Regions from separate parts of the Homo sapiens genome. Here region 2 is linked to region 1. The links come from fine-mapping of genetic effects on gene expression. Tissue or cell type: tibial nerve. Region 1 holds a variant in brackets; the other region holds the start of a gene. All regions are shown on one strand. Distances are between the middles of the regions.

The links. PIP is the estimated chance that this variant, and not a neighbour inherited with it, causes the effect.
Region 2: BPHL starts here. The variant in region 1 is fine-mapped to the expression of BPHL in tibial nerve (GTEx, PIP 0.98).

What each region holds. Positions count from the first base shown.
Region 1 is chr6:3,779,228-3,787,332 of GRCh38, reverse strand. LOC124901244 (a long non-coding RNA gene) reads left to right here. Exons shown (of 2, transcript XR_007059412.1): 2 at 1-374. Among named protein-coding and RNA genes, the nearest start is that of PXDC1, 32 kb to the right of the region's middle. The variant C/T (reference allele first, on the strand shown) is at 4,770.
Region 2 is chr6:3,114,274-3,122,378 of GRCh38, reverse strand. It overlaps BPHL (biphenyl hydrolase like), which reads right to left and starts at 3,668. Exons shown (of 7, transcript NM_004332.4): 1 at 3,532-3,668. The coding sequence starts at 3,638. RIPK1 (receptor interacting serine/threonine kinase 1) reads right to left here. Exons shown (of 11, transcript NM_001354930.2): 11 at 7,192-8,105. It overlaps LOC107986556 (a long non-coding RNA gene), which reads left to right and starts at 3,732. Exons shown (of 4, transcript XR_001743928.3): 1 at 3,732-4,590. RefSeq lists a silencer at 3,371-3,760 and an enhancer at 3,799-4,434.

The DNA of each region.
Region 1 (8,105 bases):
AGACACAGTCTTAAAGCGGCTTCCTCAACGGCTTGACTCACTAACCTTGCTGAATGTCCATGACGAGTAGAACTCGGTGTATTCATTTTTTAACTGATACATAATAGTTGTACATATTGATGAGGTACATGTGATATTTTGATTTGTGCATACGATGCTTAATAATCAAATTAGAGTATTTAGGATAACCACCGCTTCAAACGTTTCTCATTCTCTGTGTGTCCTTGATACAAGTAATTTCTCTTTTAGAAATTCAACCTAAGGAAACCAAGCAGAGTCCACCTTTAAGCCCAGGATGACAGGAGTGACGACATCTGCTTTGACAAGCAGTCATAAAAGTATGTTTTTAAATAAATTCCAGCTTCATGGGAAAATTCTCACAATATAATATTAAATTAAAAAGCAGGATATAAAATTATCTACAGAATATACAGTATAAACCCAAGTGTGTAAGGAACACACACAACTACGTCAAGGCAACAGAATTGCCATTTGTAGTTGTGGAATTCTGAGCAATTTTATTTTCTAATGCATTTTTGTCACATGTGTGAATATATTACAAAAAGTTTTTTCAAAAAATAGGAAATTCCAGTTGGGTACGGTGGCTCACGCCTGTAATCTCAGCACTTTGGGAGGCTAAGGCAGGTGGATCACTTGAGATCAGGAGTTCAAGACCAGCCTGGCCAACATGGTAAAACCCCATCTCTACTAAAAATACAAAAATTAGCTGGGTGTGGTGGCATACGCCTCTCATCCCAACTACTGAGAAGGCTGAGGCAGGAGAATCACTTGAACCTGGGAGGCGAGGTTGCAGTGAGCCGAGATCACACCACTGCACTCCAGCCTGAGTGACAGAGAGAGACTCTGTCTAAAACAACAACAACAAATAAAAATAGGAAATTCCATGAACAAAATTAAAAGTGAAAAATGACACCAAAGAAAATTTTTGCAAGTGAAAAGTGACACCAAAGAAAAATTTTGCAATATACATGAGTCATAAGGTTGCTGTCCCTCATTTATAAAGAACACACATATATCGAAAAGCAAAATATTAACACTTACATAGAAAAATGGTAAAATACCCTGGGGCAGAGATCAGCTCTCCACCAAAACCTGCTTCCCTTTCTCTGCAGTCCTGGCCTTACGCTGGGTCAGCCTGCTCAGGACACTATGTTTTCTGTGTCTCTTGGAGTCTGGTGTGAGTTTGAGGTTCAGCTCTCTCCAGTGGAATGTGACAAAAGTGGGGTGCATGAATTTTATGTCTGGCCCCAAACCCTGGTAAGCAGGTTATAAAACAGTTAAATTCCATTTCCAAAACTTAGTATACAGTGCTGTCAGCACTTTACTGATACGAGCTCATTCCATCCTAACAACAACTCCGTGAAGCAGGAGAGGATCTCCCCACTTTAGAGATGAGAAAGCTGAGGCTAGAGACAAAGTTCACTCTGTGGCATGTGGTCTATTTCTGCATAGAAATGACGTGAAATGTGATACACACTAAAACATTACAGTGCTTATTTCTGAATTCTGACTACAAATACTGTGGTACATATGTTTTCTCAACAAACGTACCATCTGTAATTACACGTGAAATTTTTAAATAGTAAAAAAATTTAAATGACAGCAAAATAATTAGAGTTTTATGGACACTAGATTGCACAATTTAAGACAGTCGGCCAGGGCCGGGCACAGTGGCTCACGCCTGTAATCTCAGCACTTTGGGAGGCCGAGGCGGGTGGATCACCTGAGGTCATGAGTTCCAGACCAGTCTGGCCAACACGATGAAACCCTCTCTCTACTAAAAATGCAAAAATTAGTAGGGCGTGGTGGCGAGCGCCTGTAATCCCAGCAACTTGGGAGGCTGAAGCAGGAGGATTGCTTGAACCCAGGAGACGAATGTTGCAGTGAGCCGAGGTTGCACCACTGCACTCCAATAACTTTTAAGAGGAGTAGATTATATGTAAACCATCCCCATCTCCCTACTTTTTTTTGGTAATTCTAAACACAGAAAACACAATTTTGTCTGCCAAAATTGTAACCCAAGTGTATTAGTCCATTCTCACACTGCCGTGACGAAATACCGAGACCAGATAATTTATAAAGAAAAGAGGTTTAGTTGACTCACAGTTCTGCATTGCTGGAGAGACCTCAGGAAACCGACAGTCATGGCAGAAGGCAAAGGAGAAGCACGTACCTTCTTCACCGGGCGGCAGGACAGAGTGAGTGCAAGCGGGGAAAGGCCAGACGCTTCCGAGCCCGTCAGATCTCGTGAGAGCTCACTCACCATCACGAGAACAACATGGGGGAAACCGCCCCCATGATTCAATCACCTCCACCTGGCCCCGCCCTTGACCCTTGAGGATTATGGGGATTATAATTTGAGGTGAGATTTGGGTGAGGACACAGAGCCAAACTGTATCCCCAAGTCTGAAAGCTTTGAAAGGAGGACAGAAGGGCTGACAATCACTGGGAGGTCACAATCCACCCTGATCCTTCTGTCTAAGTGATATGGAACTGTGCCCCATTTTAAACCATCCTGCCTCCCAAAGGCTCCCACAGTGTCTTAGACACGCAACAGAAGGTGCTCGGAACTGGATATCCCTTGGCATGACGAAGTCAACAGCACCGCTGCCGGTTACAGGGTGACTGTGGTGAACGAACAGTGCCACTGTCACGGGAAAACACTGGGCACCGCTCTGTATGACGGAACGTGACCCTCTGACTCACATCCACCTGTGATAGGGAGGCCTACCTACCTGGGCTGCCCATGCCGGCCGCTGAGCTTGTGACAGATGCACCTATACTAACAAGTTCTAAATCAGCAAACTTTTTCTGTAAAGTGCCAGAGAGTGAATATTTTAGGCTTTCAGGCCATACAGTCTCTGTTGCATCCCTGCCTCATAGTGTGAGTGTGGTATGGCTGTGTCTCAATAAAACTCTCTTTTTTTTTTTTTTTTTTTTGAGGCAGAGTCTTGCTCTGTCACCCAGGCTGGAGTGCAGTGGTGTGATCTCGGCTCACTACAACCTCCGCCTTCCAGGTTCAAGCAATTCTCCTGCCTCAGACCCCCGAGTAGCTGGGATTACAGGCATGTGCCACCATGCCCGGCCAAATTTTTGTATTTTTAGTAGAAATGGAGTTTCACCGTGTTTGCCAGGATGGCCTTGATCTCCTGAACCTTGTGATCTGCCTGCCTTGGCCTCCCAAAGTGCTGGGATTACAGGCATGAGCCACTGTGTCCAGCCAATAAACTCTTTTTACAGCCGGGCACAGTGGCTTATGCCTGTAATCCCAGCACTTTGTGAGGCAGAGGCAGGCGGATCACCTGAGGTCAGGAGTTCGAGACCAGCCTGACCAACATGGTGAAACCCCATCTCTACTAAAAATATCTTTAAAATTATCCAGGCATGGTGGCACATGCCTGTAATCCCAGCTATTCCGGAGGCTGAGGCAGGAGAATCGCTTGAACCCGGGAGGTTCAAAACAAAAAAACAAAACAAACAAAAACAAAAACTCTTTTTACAAAGACTGGCCCGACAATTCATCCACCTAACCGAAAACCAGTTGCACCCCAAAGGCTATTGAAATTTTAAAAACTGGCCAACCTTCCATGGTTTGCCACACTGTGATACACTTGTGCCCTTGCCCTCCAAGGGTGGCACCTGGATCAGCAGCACCAGCCTCTCCTGAGAGCGAGTCAGAAACGCGGAAATCACGCCCCTCCCCAGACCTACTGAGTCAAGATGTGCGTTTGAAGAAGATCCCTGGTGATTGGTGTGCACATTACAGTGTGAGAAGTCCCGGCGGAGAGCAGATGCTCAAGCCCAGCCGCTCCTTGGTATCTCCTGGGGAGGTTTAAAAACATACTGATGCCCTGAGATTCTGATTTGGTACTGGGTAGAGTCCAGGCACGGGGATTCTGGAAAGCTTCCAGGATTGTCATATGTGGTCAGAAGTGAGACTAAATAGAGATGGTCACCTGAACATACCCAGTGGTGACTCAATGATGAAAACACTGCCTCTCAGAAAGATGGATAAAACACTCAGCAGCCCTGGCTTGGCTGTCGAGATGCCCATTTGTTTCTACCTTGCCAGGGTGCTGGCCTGCACCCAGCCCCAGGGAGGGGCCCCCTGCCCACTCGTGGTCTCCTGAGCCGGTTCTTGTGTGGCTTTCACAACCAGTCCATGGAGGACAGAGAGTCCTGGGAGCCAGGCCCAGCCACGTGCAGAGCAAGAAGCCAGGTGCTGTGATTTAGCTCCTGGAGACCATGGAAATACTTAGATGTCATTGATCCAGATAGAATGGATGACTGTGAAGTCAGGACAGATCATGTGATCAGAAAGCTTAACCCTGAATTTCATCACAGAACATATTTATAAAAAGAACAAACACGAAGCTGCTGGACGCCAGATGGAGTTCTTTAGAAATTTCCTGGGAGGAGGGTGGGGGTGGGCAGTCATCACAGCACATGCTGCCGTGGATCTGTTTGGGGGACCACCAAAGGCGAGGCATCCGTGAGAGCTAAAGATGCATTAGGAAACAGGATGCCACTTGTGCAGACTCTGGCTGTGGCACCGTGAACTGAGGACGGCAACACACCTTGGTAGTGGTGTGCAAACCTGCTCCCAGGAAGCCTGAGGGTGAACTCCTGGGCAGCCTAGAGAGGTTGGAATCAGGAATCCCTGCTCCTTCTCTCCAACCCAAAATCTGCAGCCCCCTCCCGAAAAACTACTGTGCAAGGGTGCAAAGGAAACGCATGGTCCCCCCATT[C/T]GCCTTGCGATCACAGCAGCCCCCTTCGTTGCCCCAGCTCCTTCCACACTGGCAGACGGTCTGACCTCTCAGGTCTTCGTCGGCCCAGACACACCTGTGGGCCCTGAAATCAGATGACTAAGCCTCTAACTAAGCTCGCTTAACCATCAGGTCCCATCCACAGATTCGACTTGTGTTTATTTTGGGGAGTCAGCTTTGTTCTTTCACAGATTTTTGGGTGCAGATTTTGGGGTTAAATATTCACAGTGTGAATATTTAAAACGTCTGGCCACAGCATCATAATCAGCCCAAAGCGAGGGCTCAGACGTTCATACCTTGGGAGACTTATCTGGCTTATTATTCCCCAAGTCTGGGGAAGAGAGTGACTTGGAGACTTTGGACAGGAAGTTAGTGTCCGTCCTCTGAAATTGTTTGGCATGGGAAACCGCATCAGAACAAAAAGAGAGGCGATCCTACATTGTATTGTCCAGGGAGGGCTGGCAGGCATACCCTGGGCAGCTCTGGGCAAACCAGACATGTGGTCACTCTACCACACCCTACCATCACGCCACGTCGCCATGTCCTTTGGTAGAATGTTGAGATTCGTTGTGCCTTGTTTGGTCGGGACGAAGTGCATTCAGCATCCATGCAACCTTCACAGCACGTACATTTCTCTAACAGGCCACCGCAGCCTTATTTGATCACATCCGTTGTGCTATACAGAAATTACTCCATTTTTCTTCTACATCTTCCTTCTATATAGTTTTGTCTATAAAAAGCTAATGGTAGTGTCAGGCCACTGTCCTTTGGAGGGATGAGGAAGCTCTTCTCACACACAGCTCAGAAAATGATTTACGGCAAAGACCCACGTTGGAGGCCTCTCAGTATACATTTGTGCTGACGCAAGCTGCCCTTGGGAGCCATTTCGATGGGTAAAAATGCTCGTTTCTAGTGTTTCCAAGATACCATGAACCAGATTGCCTCATGTGGTGAAAAGGGAGGAGTAAATGTCCCCAAATGAACGGTTTTTAAATAATTGTGTAGGGAGATTTGCTGTAGGGAGACTGAATAGCCCAGCTCTTGGGACAAACTGGAGATAGGAACCATTTGCAGGCAGGCAAATGTTTACTAGGTTTAAAGAGCAGGAGGTGCAGCTAAACAGCTAGAGAAACACTTGTGTGGTATTGCCACTGTGGGGATGCTTCCCTAAAGGAATGATATCTGGGATCATTGATAAAACTGGGAAATTAAAGAGTAAGTTTCATCCATTTATTTGCTATATGGCCTTGATGACAATACCTCACTTTCCTTCACCTGTAGAGTTTGAGTAATAGTAGTATGCCCACCCCTGAGGGGTACAATTGGATCATGCACACAGGACTTTCTTGGCACCGGTGCAGGGCACAGGGCACATTGGAAGGGCTTGGTAAATACCAGCTGTTAATAGTGTATCATTTAATGACTTCCTCATGATCGGTCCCTCCAAATGTGTGAGAGTGACACCTGCTTCATCCCTTCCCTGGAGATGCTGTCTGTCTCCAATCACTGAGCCCCTGCGTGTCCGGGAGGTTGGAGAATCCACAGAAATCCTATCCAAGGGGCCTCTTCATTGCTGTGGCTCGATTGTGCTGCCTTGGGGCCTGAGGCCTCTCCTAAGTCACAGACCTGCATCCAGCAAACTGTGTCGGCCTTCACCCCAGTGTCCCCAGAGACTTCAACATCCCCATATGCCACACCGGCATCATCATTTTTTCTCCCCAGTCTCTGCTCATTCCTGTGGTCTCTGTCAGAGAATGGCGCCCCTGGCTTCCCACCACCCTGGCAGGAAAGCTGCATACAGGTTGCTTCTACTCACTCTCCCTTTCTCTCTCCCTTGCTTTTCTCATCAGCAGGTCACTGGGTTGCCAGGGGTTCTGCTTCCTCCCACCTGCCTCTTTTAGACTCCCCACCCAGAGGCTTTTAACACTGACTGCCAGTCCAGTGCTGGTATAAGAAACTGGGACTCTGCACACTTTGTGGTCCACGACTCCTGCAGGGTGGGGCTGATGTCACCTTCACAGGACTTCCACCCAAGGCTGCAGCCTTGAGAGGCTTCCTCCTTCCCCGGCCTGCTCCCCACTCTCTCACAGGTAGGTCTCCCCAGGATTAATTCCTTGATAAAGCTCTTGCATGTGAATATATGTCTCAGGGTCTACTTCTGGTGCACCTGACCTCAGGCACCTCACACTCCGAGTAGACAAGTCTACACGCCATCGGGTCAGTACCCTCTGTTCTATCTCCACTCCATGAGATCCGCCCCTCTGAGATGTTCTTCCTTGCTTTTCTCGCTGCTGGCCCTACCGATACTCAAGGCCCCTTCCAATGGTGTACCCCAGGAAACCTCTCCCGGTTGGCTCACCCTCCCTCTGACTTCAGCTGAGTGCAACTGGGCTGTGTGCTGTCCCTGACCTGAGGCCCTGGGCATATGGTCCGCACTCAGCACCAGCCCTGCCATGTCAGGGAGGGAAGGCATGGGTATCCCTCCACCCTACTTGTGTACATAGGTAAGAGCATGCTCAATTTACTTTACATCTTCTCTTTGTCAAGCTCCTGGATCATTCCAGTTGCTCAGCAAACCTCTTTTTTCAGCCCTGGTAAGAGTCAGGGCTGAAATTTCCCATGTCCCACCCAGTAAGGCCATGGAGACAGTGAAAACATTGGGGTGCGTTCACGCGGGTTGGTACTGTACCCTGGCCACCCGGCCTCTCCCCAGCCCCCTAGATCTCTCCATGAGCCCACATTTAAAGGGTGACCTTGTCACAGCAGAGAGCTTGGGTACCTGCCCCAGCATCTCAGCAAATGGCCAGTCCAGTCCTTCTGTGCATGTGCCTGGCATGTTGTTAAATATTTTGTGGCATAAGTTCTATTTGTGTTGATAGTTTCAGGTAAGAACAAACAGAAGTAGCCAGCGCCATTACCGCGGAGATCCCCAGGGCCAGCGCACAGCGACCTGTGCCTCTTGGTCCTTTCCTCCCCAAATCAGCCCTGGCGCCCTGGCAGATGAGAATCAGATGCTCAGCACCCCCACAGCAACAGTGAGGCAGCTCTGGCAATAAGCAAAAATGGTGGGCGGCAGCCTCCTGGAGCACGCCGGGTCCCTGACAGTAGGGAAAGAAAGCTTTCTACCTAACACCTCTCCTCCAGGACAGTTAGAACAAGTGTGGTCTGGACCCAGAGCATTGGAAGGAGTCTGCTGCCAGCCAAAGGGCAAGCTGTTGCCCCTACCGAGCAGCCCTGCAGAGAGGCTGGCACATCACATGCAGCATTTTTCCAGGTCATGCCAAAGTTGAGATCTTTTTCCAAGCAGGGCACAAAGGA
Region 2 (8,105 bases), 660 kb after region 1:
AGATGCCAGAAGGAGGCGCTCTCTTCTCCTGGTGGAGTGCCAATACAATGAAATCAACCACCATCTCCTTTTATTTTTATTTTTATTTATTTATTTTTTGAGATGGAGTCTCACTCTGTCGCCCAGGCTGGAGTGCAGTGGCGCCATCTCGGCTCACTGCAAGTTCCACCTCCCGGGTTCACACCATTCTCCTGCCTCAGCCTCCCAAGTAGCTGGGACTACAGGCACCCGCCACCACGCCCGGCTAATTTTTTTGTATTTTTAGTAGAGACGGGGTTTCACCCTGTTAGCCAGGATGGTCTCAATCTCCTGACCTCGTGATCTGCCTGCCTCAGCCTCCCTAAGCGCTGGGATTACAGGCCCGGCCCATCTCCTTTTTCTTCTACATACTCTCTACTCCTACCTCTGCCCTTAGTCAAAGGATAACTGAAACACAGCCCTTTTGAAAAAATGAGGTCCTGTTTTATCTTTTGGTTTAATCTTATTTGCCAGTCTCAAGTAAAAAAGAAACAAACGTGGAAACAGATGTGTTGAATACAGGTACATCTACTCTTAACATACCATTTCTGGAAAAATAAAAGACAGAATTGGGTAGTAATAAGGTCTGACTAAACTATAAGCTCCTTATCTACAGAAATATTATTAAAGGGGCATCAATGAAGCCACCAAGCAATGGCAATACTGACTCTGCCATTTACTTATTATGATTACTGCCCTATTCCTCTGAGAAATTCATTTCTACAGTTAAGATAGCTTAGGATCGGCCAGGTGTGGTGGCTCACACCTGTAATCCCGATACTTTGGGCGGCCCAGGTGGGTGGATCACGAGGTCAGGATCACGAGGTCAGGAGATCAAGACCATCCTGCCCAACATGGTGGAACGCCATCTCTACTAAAATACACACAAAAAAATTAGCCCGGCATGGTGGTGCACACCTGTAATCCCAGCTACTCAGAAGGCTGAGGCAGGGGAATCGCTGGAACCTGGGAGGTGAAGATTACAGTGAGCCGAGATCGTGCCACTGCACTCCAGCCTGGTGACAGAGAGAGACTCCGTCTCAAAAAAAAAAAAAAAAAAAAAAAAAAAGAAACTGCTATTATCATATTGTATGTTCAGCTATTTCTTTTGTGTATGTTTTGTGAAGTAGCCATTATCTACAATAAAGTATTTGCTACCTTCAGGGCTTGAAATTTGCATGAATCTTGATGAATTATTTTTACATCTCTTATATATTGTACTATTATATAAATATTCCCATTGTGCCTACTAATTACTTCATGTTTATTATATCCCCAGGCTTTTACATTTATTGTTTCAAATCCTCACAAAAACGCTGCAAGGCAGGAGGCTCAGAGAGGTTGAACAATCTGCCCACACTCACAGAGCTAGGAAGTGGCCACGGGGCCATTAGAACTCCAGAGGCCATGATTCCTCTCTAACCTCATGGCTGAACAGAGTCCTAAGAGGGCTCAGGCACCGGGGCCACACTCTGACTGCCAGATACAGCGTGGTGGCAAGCGTCAGCAGAAGGACAGTCTCTGATTCTCTGGCAGGGCATCCCAAGGTTGAACTTGGAAAATATTTTTTAGGAAGATTGTTAGGTTATGTGAATTATTAATATTTATAACTGCACATAATATCCAATTTCAGGTAGAAAAGGCTTTTCTTGACCTGACCCAGGAATAAATCACCTTACGGATTTTGAAATAAGGGTCAAAGTTCCAAACAGCAGACTTACAAACAAGTTTTTGGAACAAAAGTCAGTTGTAGGTTGGGCACTGGCTATTCTGAAGCAAAGTTTTTACACGAATCCTTTTACCTACTGACACTGAGCTACAGCTGCATTTCAGGATTAACTAATACCACTGCTTGTTTTCCCAGATTATATGTCATATCAACTTGCAGCTGCATTTATAAAACGGCCGTACAAAATCCAGAAAAACCTGTTTCTTCAGAGATATTTTAGGAAGAATGATCTGCAATGCAACTAGATGGATGGGGCCTTCCTCAACCATTAAATAACCTATCAGAACTATACTGGTAGGCCGAGAGCGGTGGCTCACGCCTGTAATCCCAGCACTTTGGGAGGCTGAGGCAGGTGGATCATTTGAGGTCAAGAGTTCGAGATCAGCTTGGCCAACATGGTGAAACCCCATCTCTACTAAAAACACAAAAATTAGCCGGGCATGGTGGCAGGTACCTGTAATCCCAGCTACTCGGGAGGCTGAGGCCACGAGAATCGCTTAAACCTGGGAGGCAGAGGTTGCAGTGAGCGAGATCACAACACTGCACTCCAGCATGGGCAAAAGAGCGAGAGTCAGTCTCAAAAAAAAAAAGAACTATATTGGTACAATCACAGTAACTTATTTCGATGCCTTTCTGCAGACAGGAAACTGGAAAAAATAATCATTTTCACTGTTAATTTATACAGCTGTAGCCATTAACATGTTTTTCCATCTATCAAAATAGCCCTGACCATCTTATAATAATTCTAAAATTAAAGGAGCTAGTCAATTGCAATATGAAATTTTAAAAGCTGGTCAGATTTGCCCTCTTTTCTCCTTCTAAATCAAGTTTTCAAACTAAAAGTTTCTATGTTGGATCAAGTACAGTTCTAAACGCTGTGTACCTATCTAGTACTGACTTTATGAAAGTAGCCCATCAACAGTCAACTGCGCACATGCACTGTGTACGTTCGTTGTATACGTGTGTTTGCATGTGTGTAGGGATGTATGTAGAGAATAAAGTAAAACAAGCTTCATGCCGCTCTATCCACATTTCTGCCCAGTATCTCTTGGGACCAAGAGTATCCATTTTCAAGACAGAAGGTCAGAAATTAATCCAGTTTTTTTGTTATTGTTTTACCTGAAATGGGGGGACAGGTGGGAGGACAAAAGAGAATAAAGCAGATTCCTGGGCATCTCCACACATGTAGATCAGATCCTCTGGGAGTGAGGCCCAGGATTCTGAATTTTCAGTTCCCAACGTGATTCTTTTGCACATTAAGGTACGAGATCAGCAAGCAAAGAGAAGACTTAGGGCTCTCGGGACCCGTGATTAAAGCCTTAGCGGTACTCAGGCTCAGGCTGATTTCTGACATAAGAGAAAGAAGAGATTATTGTCCTTATGCCCTTAGTGTGGACTCTGGACAGAGCAATGGACTAATGAGGGCGTTGGGATTCTAGTCCGTGCTCCGTCACGGGTGAGTCCATACTACAGGCAAATGTATCTCCCTGGGTCTCTCTGGTCTGCACACTGAAGGGGCTGCACTCTATAGCCCAAGCCTCCACGGCTCCAGACTCCTTGAACTGAGGCTGACCGAGGCGCATGCACGATCGAGGGGCTCGAGCACCAAGCGCGGCTGGCCCCCAGGATCGGGGTCTCGCGGCACAAAGGGCGACAGGGCAGCCAGGCCGCGCCCACGCCCCGTGCCCGCGCGCCGGGAACTCCTGCTGTCGGCACGCGCCCCTCCCGCCGCCCCTCGAGCGCGCCGATGCTGGGGATCCCCGGGGCGAGGTGGCCGCCATTACCCGAACGCGGCCGCGGGTCCGGCCCGTGGGACGTGGATCCCGGGCTTCAGCGCTGAGAGAAGCAGCCGCAGGCGCAACACGCCCCGGCCGCCCAGCACAGCCACCATGGTCACAGGTCGCGTAGCTGCCGGGAGTGCGCATGCGCTAAGACCAAGCGCGGTACCCGGCCCACTCTGCCCCGAAGCCACGCCCTCTGCTCCGCCCACCTCGCCTCTCCATCCTGCTCCGCCCTCTGCCCGCCCCGCCCCGAAGCCACGCCCTGCCGGGTGCTTTCCCATGGGCGACCGAAACTCGGCTCGTGGTTTCGCAGTCCTGGAACCGCCGGCACCCGCGTAGACCGTCCCCTCTCGGTGCTGGCTCTGGCTCCCGGGATGAGTGTCCCCGTCGGCGCTGCCCCGCCCTCGCTCGTCGCCTCAGCGACCATGGCCTTTCCAGGAGGCGAGGCCGCCAGCCATAGCGCCCTCGCTGCGTCGGCGTCCAGGCGGGACTCCGGAGTGGGCGGGGCTCCGGCTCTAGGCAGGCTGCTATGTTGGATCAAGTAAAGTTCTAAACGCTGTGCACCTATTTAGTACTGACTAGTACTAGGAAGTGTATTTGCTTTTCGGAGATGATGGGATCTAAATTTTGTTTATACCACTTCACGCCCATTAGGATGGCTACTAGCAAAACCCCCAGAAATTAGTGTTGGTGAAGATGTAGAGAAATTGAAGCCCTTGTATATTGCTGTTGGGAATGTAAAATGGTGCAGCCATGTGATGAACAATACTGCGGTTCCTCAACAAATCAGTTATATGATCCAGCATTTTCTTTTCTGGGTATATAACCCAAAAGAATTTAAAACAGGGTGTACAAGAAGAAATGTTTTTACACTCACGTTGACAGCGGCACTATTCACAATAGCCAAAAGGGTGGAGGCAATTTAAGTGTCCAAAAACAGATACATGGATAAGCAAAATGTTGTCTGTGCATGCAAGGGAACATTTTTTAGCCTGAACAAAGAACGAAATTCTGACACTTGCTACTACATGGATGAACCTGGAGGACACTATGCTGAGGGAGGTAAGCCAGTCAAAAAAAGACAAATACTGTGTGATTCCACTTATATAATAAGGTACCTAGAGGAGTCAAACTTATAGGGACAGAAAATAGAATGGGGGTTGTTGAGGGCTGGTGGAAGGGGGAATGGAAAGTTGGTGTTTCATGGGGACAGAGTTTCAGTTTGGAGAGATGAAAAAGTCCTGGGGATGGATTTTGGTGATGCCTGCATTACATTGTGAGTGTACTTACTGCCACTGAACTACACACCTAAAAGTGGTTTAAGTGGTAAGTTTTATGTATGTTTTACCACAATTAATTTTTTTTCTTTTGGCTGTATAATTGCAGCTTTATAAAGGTTATAGACATTATCTAATTGAAAGCTCAGTGGAGAAAAAAAACAACTATTGCTTTTTAAGTCAATCGTTCTGCCTTAATTGGAAATAACTGGCAGATTTGTGGCTACTGTTGTAGCCTTGGCTTGAATAATTGGAGACAACAGCTTCTTTGCATATTGCATTTCTTCTCCTCCAAGAGACCTTTTTGGTGTAACAGTCAGTCCTGTGAGCACAGTGCTTGTAGGTGTTACACTCATAGAAATTTCTGTCACCTGCAGTGTCCTCACTGGCCCATTGGACTTTCTTGAGTAGTAAAGGCAGTTTTGGCCTAAATACAGACTATGCAAAAGTTTTCATATTCTACTCTCAACATAAATCTATCACATTAATTCCTGCATAAAAGGAAAGAGACATATATAATGTTTGAGTTTAATATCGTTTGACTTTCAGAAATCTTTGGTGAGGTCAGTATTTCCTTTTTTCCTGATATGTTGATTGGGGTTTCATCTCAGAAATGATAAAAATAGCTGTCTGTACAGTTTCAACACCAGTTACCCTTGTGCTAATAAAAAACGGTAGCACTGAGTTTTAGGTTATTGGTGTCACAATTTTTTTTTTTTGAGACGGAGTTTTGGTCTTGTTGCCCAGGCTGGAGTGCAATGGCGCAATCTCAGCTCACTGTAACCTCTGCCTCGCAGGTTCAAGCAATTCTCCTGCCTCAGCCTCCTGAGTAGCTGAGATTACAAGCACCCGCCACCATGCCCGGCTAATTTTTGTAATTTTAGTAGAGACGAGGTTTTGCCATGTTGGCCAGGCTGGTCTCAAACTCCTGACCTCAGGTGATCCACCCGCCTCAGCCTCCTAAAGTGCTAGGATTACAGGTGTGTGCCACCGCGTCCAGCGTGGTGTCACTATTTTTAAGTAACATACCTGACAACCAGTTCTTTATATATAGCAAGATCGTACAGTTTAAAAAAACTGCCATTTTTGTGCCAGGCACCTTATGATATATCATATTTCTTTAATCTTCACATTAGCCTTCTGTGCTATTGCACTCTCCATTTATAGATGAGGCAACTGAGGCTAAGAAAGGTTAGGAAGCAAGCCCTAGGTAACACAGCTGAAAAGTAATTTTGAGCTGCTCAATTTCAGGACTCTATACTTGCATAATGACGGCGAAAGGTTAGGAAGCAAGGCCTGGGTAACACAGCTGAGAAGGGGCAGGGGGGAGTTTTGAGCTCTCAATTTCAGGACTCTATACTTGATGATGATGATGATGATTGCTATTATTATTGAGGCACGGTGTGATCACAGCTCCCCACAGCCTCAAACTCCTGGGCTCAAGTGATCCTCCCACCTTAGCCTGCCAAGAAGCTAGGACTACAGGCATACACCACCACACCTGGCTAATATTTTTTAATGTTTTTGTGGAGATAGGGTCTTGCTGTGTTGTCCACACTGGTCTCGAACTCATGGCCTCAAGCGATCCTCCCAGCTTGGCCTCCCAAAGTGCTGGGATTACAGGCATGAGCCACTATACCTGGTCGTATACTTGGATTATTGCATATTGTAAAAATCACTGTAGTAGCATTAACCTTTCAGTGATTTCTCTGAAATCAGCTGCTTCTAAAATCTTGAATATTTACACTATTTATGCCTTTATTATAATTAGAAAACCCTTTCCCTTTCATAAATACCACACATTAAAATGTACATCAAAATACTGCCTAAAATATTTTGTGATTTATTAAACATTTTATTCCTGAAACCCTAACCTCACGTGACAGACCCAAAGCAAAGATGATGATTGTAGCAACAAGTAGAAAATCTACCAAGCAGGACTGTGGGAGCTGGAAGGAGGTCTCCGTTACCAGCAATAACCTAGGGTGTGAGTATTTGTTTCCGAACCAAGTGCGGACAGTCTCGGTTCTGCTTTGCTGGTCTGTGTCGTCATTGGCTCTGCCCATTAACAGCAGTGTTCTTGTGGAGCTTGGGCCTTGTACCTAACTCCTCACAGGCAAACTTGGTTCTTCTCACCATGGTGCTGAGAGAGTGGGGGTGAAGGGAAGGCCCCAGAGCCAGGCGCGGGGACAGCAGTGCTGCAGGCCTCTCATCCTGAGCGCCAAAATGCACTGGCAGGGAGGTGTTCTTACCATCAGCATCCCGTCTCCTGCTTGGCAGCGGGAGGGTAAAAGGGGATTATGCTCAGGAAATGCGGCCTCAGTGGCAGAGGCACCATGGAGAATCCGCATCTGTCCCAGTGACACATCACATCAATAGCCTAAAGTTGTGGTATAAATTTTTATTTTAAAAAGTGTTAAAAAATGCCTTGCCCTCTTGCCTTTGAACATTAATTATTCAACCTCTTTGGAATCTAAGAGATTTGATAACACCATTTGGATGGTGGTACAAGGAGCAAACAGAACTCACCCAGGCCCCTCCAGCAAAGCCTGGAGCCTCCCTCCATTCTCCCTTTTGGGCTGTAGGAGCCAAGGCTGCGTGGTGGCCAAGTAGTAACCGGACAGGTGCAGACAGGAGAGCCGAGGCTCATTACTTTACAGCAGTGCTCTTCTCAACCGGGGCAATTTTCCCCTTTCCTTGGACCATTTGACAATGTTTAGAGACTATTGTCACAACTGGGGCGGGGGGCTGGGGAGAACAGTGCCCCTGGCATCTAGTAGGTGGGGGCAGGGATGCTACTAAACATCCTACAAGGAACAGGACAGTCCCCACAACAGAATTACCCAGGCCGAGATGCCGACAGTGGCAAGGCTGAGACAGCCTGCTCTGCAGCCCCATTTCAGGGGTGTGTATGTGTCTGCTAGAGTTGAGGGGATTCACAATCAGAATCAACAACACTGTTATCAGCCCAAGACACCAGAATCTGTTCCGACAGCCAGATTGACCATCACCACACCCTTCTCGCCCTCCCTCTGGGGAGAGCTAAGCACACAGCCTTCCTTGTCGGTTTAGCAAAATGCCAGTGGACACTGAGCGGCCTACCCAGCTTCAGTCTTCTATTCTAGTTCTTTCATCCACCCCCAGGTTTCAGGTGGGCTTTGAAAGGCTGGGTGCTAGAGGCACAATTACCACACTCAGAAGCTGTCCTTTTTCACTCTGGCACACAGAAAAAATATGAAAATACTTTCACAGTACACAGAGTAAACCGAGGAAGCCACTCAACAGTATCAGCCCTGAGGT